2 linked regions of the Homo sapiens genome follow. The gene in region 1 interacts genetically with each later gene. Each region holds a gene or a part of one and is shown on either strand. Other genes may lie near its edges. The genes, in order: ATF6 and SP1.

Evidence for each region.
Region 2: of ATF6 (region 1) and SP1, changing one enhances a phenotype caused by changing the other (phenotypic enhancement), as found in Homo sapiens cells (one study listed by BioGRID).

Annotation. Positions count from the first base shown.
Region 1 is NC_000001.11:161,793,722-161,797,541, forward strand, and holds part of ATF6 (cyclic AMP-dependent transcription factor ATF-6 alpha), read left to right. Parts: intron 1-3,820.
Region 2 is NC_000012.12:53,407,648-53,411,467, forward strand, and holds part of SP1 (transcription factor Sp1), read left to right. Parts: intron 1-1,714; coding exon 1,715-1,914; intron 1,915-3,279; coding exon 3,280-3,593; 3' UTR 3,594-3,820. UniProt on the Homo sapiens protein: Transcription factor that can activate or repress transcription in response to physiological and pathological stimuli.

The sequences.
Region 1 (3,820 bases):
TGACTATGTTTGAGTGATGGAAGATCTTACCTATAATAAGAAGACAAACTGTTCTTTTCTGAGCAGTTTATCAGTTCCAGAAACCTGAATTACACATTATTTGAAACTTCAATACTTTCCTGTCATCTGAAGACTATAGTTATTTTTTTGTGAGCATGTGCTAATATGAGGAACTGCACCTTGCCTGTTTTTTTTCTTTTATTTGAGACAGAGTCTCGCTGTGTTGCCAGGCTGGAGTGCAGTGGTGTGATCTTGGCTCACTGCAACTTCCACCTCCTGGGTTCAAGTGATTCTCCTGCTTCAGCCTCCAGAGTAGCTGGGACTACAGGCACGTGCCACCATGCCCAGCTAATTTTTATATTTTTAGTAGAGACAGGGTTTCACCATGTCGGCCAGGATGGTCTTGATCTCTTGACCTCGTAATCGCCTGCCTCGGCCTCCCAAAGTGCTGGGATTACAGGTGTGAGCCACCGCGCCTGGTGCCTTGTCTGTTTTTATAGTACAATCTAAATAGGTGGTATTATTATAATAACATACAGATTTAAAGTATGTTTTTCATTTATTTGAGAATGGGGAGGAAGAAGGGAAGTATGGGCAAGACATTATACAGTTAATCATGTTAATACTAGTAGTAAATATGTTACCATTGAAAAAGAAGAGGTAATTTCCACAGGTTTAAGACTGAGATTCTCTAGCTTGGAATGTAAAACTCTTCACAATTTGGCTCTAGTTTAGTTTTTTGTTTTTTTGTTATTGTTGTTTGTTTGTTTTTAATAGAGACAGGATCTCACTATATTGCTCAGTCTGGTCTCGAATTCTTGGGCTCAAGGGATCTACCCACCTTGATCTCCCAAAGCTCTGGGATTAAGGCGTGAGCCACCATGCCTGGCCTCCTAGTTTAGTTTTCGAACTTTATAATATTACTCTTTTCTATAAATCCCTTCTTCTAGCTCAACTAATCTGTCATTGTCCTTTGAATTCTCTTGTTTTTCCTAGTTTTTTGGCTCACCATTTTCTACCAACCAGCAACAACTTATGCCTACTTCTACTTCTCAGTCCTCCATGTCCTTTAAGACTGTTTTGAGTAGTGTAGATGAGAGATAATGAAAGCCTGGAATATCAATGAAAGTGGAGAACCAGGATGAAGAGTAGAGATGTTAAAAGTGTAGAATCTTAGAGATTGGTAATTGGATTGTGTAGAAGGAGGCTGAACGATAGAGAGGAAGGTGTCTAGGATGACTTCCGTTTTTCTATCTTGGGGCTTTTTGGGTAGATGATGGCGAAAATTATTGAAATGGGAGACAGAGGTAAAATATGTTGCCCAGATCACTCTGCTAATAAGAAGTGGAGCCAGAACTTGAGCCCAGGTGGTCTGGCTCGGAGTCTATGTGAATAATCACTATACTGTATCGCCTTAAAAAAAAAATGACAGATGTATTCCTTGCTCTCAAGAATTCTACACTTTAATTGGGGGATTAAATTCACATAAACAGTTAAATAACAGTCACTGTGATAACTAATAAATTAATAACTCATGCAGTGCCCTTATGGAAGCTATTATTATATAGAAAAGGAGATTAATAATAATAATAATTGCATTTAAGTTCTTACTATGTGCCAGACACTCTTCTAAGTGCTTAAGTGCATTATCTTATTTCAAATAATATTTACACATTATTTGAAACTTCAGTATGTTTCTATGATTTATGGTGATGGGTTGTGATATCTCCATTTTTTAGATGAGAACGCTAAGTACAGATTATTTGCCCTAAGTCACACACCGATGCTGTTTCAGACAAAGTAGGCATTCAATAAATGTTTGATACATAGTTTAAAATCTTTGAAGAAAGTTTAAAAGAAAGAACTATCAAAATCAGTGAGTTACACATAGTCAAAAAAATATATGGCATTGAATCCAGCCATGTTCCGTTAAGGGGGATTTGCATGTAATGCCAGAGAGGATTTTGAGCATGCTAAAATGGATAAACAGCCTTTGGAATGTCCTTTTTAACTGTTTCCACACTAGGAACAGTAGTAACTATGTTCAGCTGCTATTTAAGGCCCCAAACAATTCTTTGCATTGTAGTTTGTGGCCTGGTCAGCATTTACCAAGTCACCATGAGAGTTTTTTGTTCTTTCACTTGAACATATTGTCATAGAAATTTAGTTGTTTCCCCTCATTCTGTGTTGAACCCAAACATGCCTAGAATATTTAGAGTATCCCTGATTTAGCTGCTGGGTAATTTGAGGATAGTTGGGTACTCTGGGATGAAAAGGCTTGATACAATATGGGAAAAAAAGGAAGCAGCAGTGGCTTGGTAGGACTCAAGCCACATTTGGCCTTGCCTTGGTATTCTTCCATCTCCTTTGTGTGATGCGGTCGTCTCAGCAAGGAGACAGTGGTAATTACACAATTGGTAGTACAGATTTGGATTATTTTTCTTAATTAGTTTAAGAAATATTACAAAGCCCTCTGTACATGTTATCTGCTAGGGCTTTAAATCTGTAACTGTAGCTAGAAATAGGATTCTTTCTTATAAGTTGCCTAATTCATTATATTTACACCTCTTCTGTTCTTTAAAATAGTCCCAAAGTTCCCTGAACAGTGTTTAATTTTGGGGAGGGATCTTTTAATCATAATTTTAAACTCAGAGGATGTAGAACATGGCTTCCTATAATACTCTTCTCAAAGTATTGGTTTAAGTCAGTGGTTCTCAGTCTGTATATTGTGGACCCTGGGATGTGGGTGATGGGGGTAGTAGCTTTATGGCATTTTGCAAAGCATCTGCAAATCCATACTTGAAGCAAGCATTTTCTGTAGACCAAATAATTTATTTCATATATCTTTGTACAGCTCTTCAAATTTTTATAGCTATACTTCTGACTAATAAACTCCAAGTTCATTTTAAATCTTCACTAAATTCTTAGCAGCCTTTTTCCATCATGTATTTTCTCAGTACACAGAAGCTGAAAGGACAACCTTGATGGTTTTGGGTGACCAGGATATTATTTTATATTAAAAGAGAGCCCTTATATTCAGGAGCCTTTGGGGAGAGACTATGGGTTTTCTAGGTGTAGAATTATATCATCTGTGTGAGAGATGGTTTGACTTCCTCTCTTCATATTTGGATGCCTTTTATTTCTTTCTTTTGCCTGATTGCTCTGGCTATGACTTGAGCACTTGGGAATTCTTGTTTTTTGGTTTTTTTTTTCACATTATGATAAATATATATTTTCATAGTGCCAGATTTACTGTAATTTCTTATTGTTATTAAAACCTAACACTTGGTCATATGCTATTTACTTTATGTGTTTCTAATTTTTATTTGCGTATTTGGCCTAAGCATGTTTATATCTGCTTCTGAGTAATTTCTGCATTTTATATGTTTTTACTTCATAAAAGATGGAGGCCACCTCAAAACAAATTAGGCATCAAAGGAACATACCTCAAAATAATAAGAACCATCTATAGCAAGTCCACAGCCAACATTGTAATGAGTGGGCAAGAGCTGGAAGTACATTCCCTTTGAGAACCAGAACAAGACAAGGATGTCCCTCTCACCACTCATATTCAACATAGTGCTGGAAGTTGTAGCCATAGCAGTCAGGCAAGAGAAAGAAATAAAAGGCATCCAAATAGGAAGAGAGGAAGTCAAACTACCTCTCTTCACAGACGATATGATTCTATACCTGGAAAACCCATAGTCTCAGCCCAAGACTCCTAGATCTGATAAACAACTTCAGCAAAGTTTTAGGATACAAAATCAATGTACAAAAGTCAGCAGCATTTCTATACCCCAGTAATGTCCAAGCTGAGAGC
Region 2 (3,820 bases), on another chromosome or scaffold:
TTGTTTTGAGATGGAGTCTTGCTCTGTTGCCCAGGCTGGAGTGCAGTGGCACAATCTTGGCTCACTGCAGGCTCCGCCCCCTGGGTTCACGCCATTCTCCTGCCTCAGCCTCCCTAGTAGCTGGGACTACAGGTGCCCGCCACCTCGCCCAGCTAATTTTTTGTATTTTTAGTAGAGACGGGGTTTCACCGTGTTAGCCAGGGTGGTCTCGATCTCCTGACCTTGTGATCCGCCTGCCTTGGCCTCCCAAAGTGCTGGGATTACAGGCATGAGCCATGGGGGCGCCCGGCCTTTTTTTTTTTTTAAGACAGATCTTCATCCGGGTACGGTGGCTCACGCCTGTAATCCCAGCACTTTGGGAGGCCAAGGCGGGCGGATCACCTGAGGTCAGGAGTACAAGACCAGCCTGGCCAACATGGTGAAACCCCATCTCTACTAAAAGTACAAAAATTAACCGGCGTGGTGTCAGGTGCCTGTAATCCCAGCTACTTGGGAGGTTGAGGTAGGAGAATTGCTCGAACTTGGGAGGTGGAGGTTGCAGTGAACCGAGATCGTGCCGTTACACTCTAGCCTGGGCGACAGAGTGAGACTCTGTCTCAAAAAAAAAAAAAAGAGCTTCGCTCTTGTTGCCCAGGCTGGAGTGCAACGGCACGATCTCGGCTCACTGCAACCTCCACCTCCCAGGTTCAAGCAATTCCTCTGCTTCAGCCTCCCAAGTAGCTGGGATTACAGGCATGTGCCACCACGCCTGGCTAATTTTGTATTTTTAGTAGAGATGGGGACCATGTTGATAAGACTGGTCTTGAACAATTTTTGTATTTTTTAGTACAGATGAGGTTTCGCCATGTTGGCCAGGCTGGTCTCGGATCCCTGACCTCAGGTGATCAATCCACCTGCCTCGGCCTCCAAAAGTGTTGGGATTACAGGCGTGAGCCATCACTCCCAGCCCCTAGAAACCTTTTTAAAAAAGAAGGCTTGGCCGGGTGCGGTGGCTCACGCCTGTAATCCCAGCACTTTGGGAGGCCGAGGTGGGTGGATCACAAGGTCAGGAGATCGAGACCATCCTGGCTAACATGGTGAAACCCCGTCTCTACTAAAAATACAAAAAATTAGCCGGGTGTGGTGGCGGGCACCCATAGTCCCAGCTACTCGGGAGGCTGAGGCAGGAGAATGGCGTGAACCCGGGAGGTGGAGGTTGCAGTGAGCCAAGATTGCGCTATTACACTCCAGCCTGGGCGACAGAGCGAGACTCCGTCTCAAAACAAACAAACGAACAAAAAAAAGAAGCCTTGGTCCAGTGCAGTGGCTCACGCCTGTAATCCCAGTACTTTGGGAGGCGGAGGTGGGCAGATCCATCACCTGAGCTCAGGGGTTCGAGACCAGCCTCGCCAACATTGCGAAACCTCATCTGCACTAAAAATATAAAAATTAGCTGGGCATGGTGGTGTGCACCTGTAATCCCAGCTACTCGGGAGGCTGAGGCAGGAGAATCGCTTGAACCTAGGAGGCGGAGGTTGCAGTGAGCCGTGATCATGCTACTGTACTCCAGCCTGGACGACAGAGTGAGACTCTCTCAAAAAAACAAAAAAGAAGACTTTTTCAAAAAATAAAAGTTTGGGTTAGTTTGGTGTCGATTGGGTGATTGCTGTTGATACTTTGTGGTTCTTTAGTTTTCTCTAGAATGAATGATTAACAGTTGTGTCCTCACTTTCAGGGGCTCGGGGGATCCTGGCAAAAAGAAACAGCATATTTGCCACATCCAAGGCTGTGGGAAAGTGTATGGCAAGACCTCTCACCTGCGGGCACACTTGCGCTGGCATACAGGCGAGAGGCCATTTATGTGTACCTGGTCATACTGTGGGAAACGCTTCACACGTTCGGATGAGCTACAGAGGCACAAACGTACACACACAGGTGAGCAAGAGCCTATGGGAGAGAAAAATAGTAATAGACTAGAATGAAAAACACAAAATATACCTACAAAATAACTAAAATTTCTGAGCAACTTAATTTGAAACTGAATATATGGGTCACAAATGGAATTGGAGTTAATCTGGAAAATTTTTAAGAAGGAAGGAGGGGCTGGGTGCAGTGGCTCACGCCTGTAATCCCAGCACTTTTGGAGGCCGAGGCGGGCAGATCACGAGGTCAGGAGATCGAGACCATTCTGGCTAACATGGTGAAACCCCGTCTCTACTAAATATACAAAAAAATTAGCCGGGCATGGTGGCAGGCGCCTGTAGTTGCAGCTACTCAGGAGGTGGAGGCAGGAGAGTGGCATGAACCTGGGAGGCGGAGCTTGCAATGAGCCAAGATCGTGCCACTGCACTCCAGCCTGGGCGACAGAGCGAGACACTGTCTCAAAAAAAAAGGAAGGAGCCAGGTGTCGTGGCTCATGCCTGTAATCCCAGCCCTTTGGGAGGCCGAGGTGGGTGGATTTCTTGAGGTCAGGAGTTCAAGACCAGCCTGGCCAACATGGGGAAACCCTGTCTCTACTAAAATTACAAAATAGTCAAGCGTGCTGGTGCACACCTGTAATCCCAGCTACTCAGGAGGCTGAGGCAGGAGAATTGCTTGAACCTTGGAGGCGGAGGTTACAGTGAGCTGAGATTGTGCCACTGCACTCCAGCCTAGGCGACAGAGCAAGACTCTGTCTCAAAAAAATAAAATAAAATAAAATAAGGAGCTAGATTTTGAGTGGGATTTTTGAAGGTGAAGCATTGAAACCATTACTCTTAGTCTCTGCCCTGCCTTACTTTTAAAACTGCTAAGTTCTACCTTCCTTACCGAGTACTCCCCAACCTTTATCTAGTTTTCTTCCTCACGCCCCCGCCAAAAGGAAAATATACTTGAAGTTTTTTGTTTTTTGTTTTTTTTTTGAGACAGAGTCTCTGTCGCCCAGGCTGGAGTGCAGTGGCGCGATCTCGGCTCACTGCAAGCTCCGCCTCCCGGGTCCACGCCATTCTCCTGCCTCAGCCTCTCCGAGTAGCTGGGACTACAGGCGCCCGCCACCACGCCCGGCTAATTTTTTGTATTTTTAGTAGAGACAGGGTTTCACCGTGGTCTTGATCTCCTGACCTCGTGATCTGCCCGCCTTGGCCTCCCAAAGTGCTGGGATTACAAGCGTGAGCCACCACGCCCAGCCACTTGAAGATTTTTCTTGTTTTTGATCACCTTCTCATACTGGCCTTACTCAGCTTAGTAGAGTAAGCACTGAATTGGGTAAGGTAACCTCACTTCCTAACATGTCAGCTTCTTATCTTTTCTTCCTTTACCTAGGTGAGAAGAAATTTGCCTGCCCTGAGTGTCCTAAGCGCTTCATGAGGAGTGACCACCTGTCAAAACATATCAAGACCCACCAGAATAAGAAGGGAGGCCCAGGTGTAGCTCTGAGTGTGGGCACTTTGCCCCTGGACAGTGGGGCAGGTTCAGAAGGCAGTGGCACTGCCACTCCTTCAGCCCTTATTACCACCAATATGGTAGCCATGGAGGCCATCTGTCCAGAGGGCATTGCCCGTCTTGCCAACAGTGGCATCAACGTCATGCAGGTGGCAGATCTGCAGTCCATTAATATCAGTGGCAATGGCTTCTGAGATCAGGCACCCGGGGCCAGAGACATATGGGCCATACCCCTTAACCCCGGGATGCAAGGTAGCATGGGTCCAAGAGACATGGAAGAGAGAGCCATGAAGCATTAAAATGCATGGTGTTGAGAAGAATCAGGAGAGGGATACAAGAGAGGAGATGGGGTCCCGGCACCCATCTGTATCATCAGTGCCTCTTTGAAGGTGGGAAACATTAGTGAAAATTCTGTTGGTGC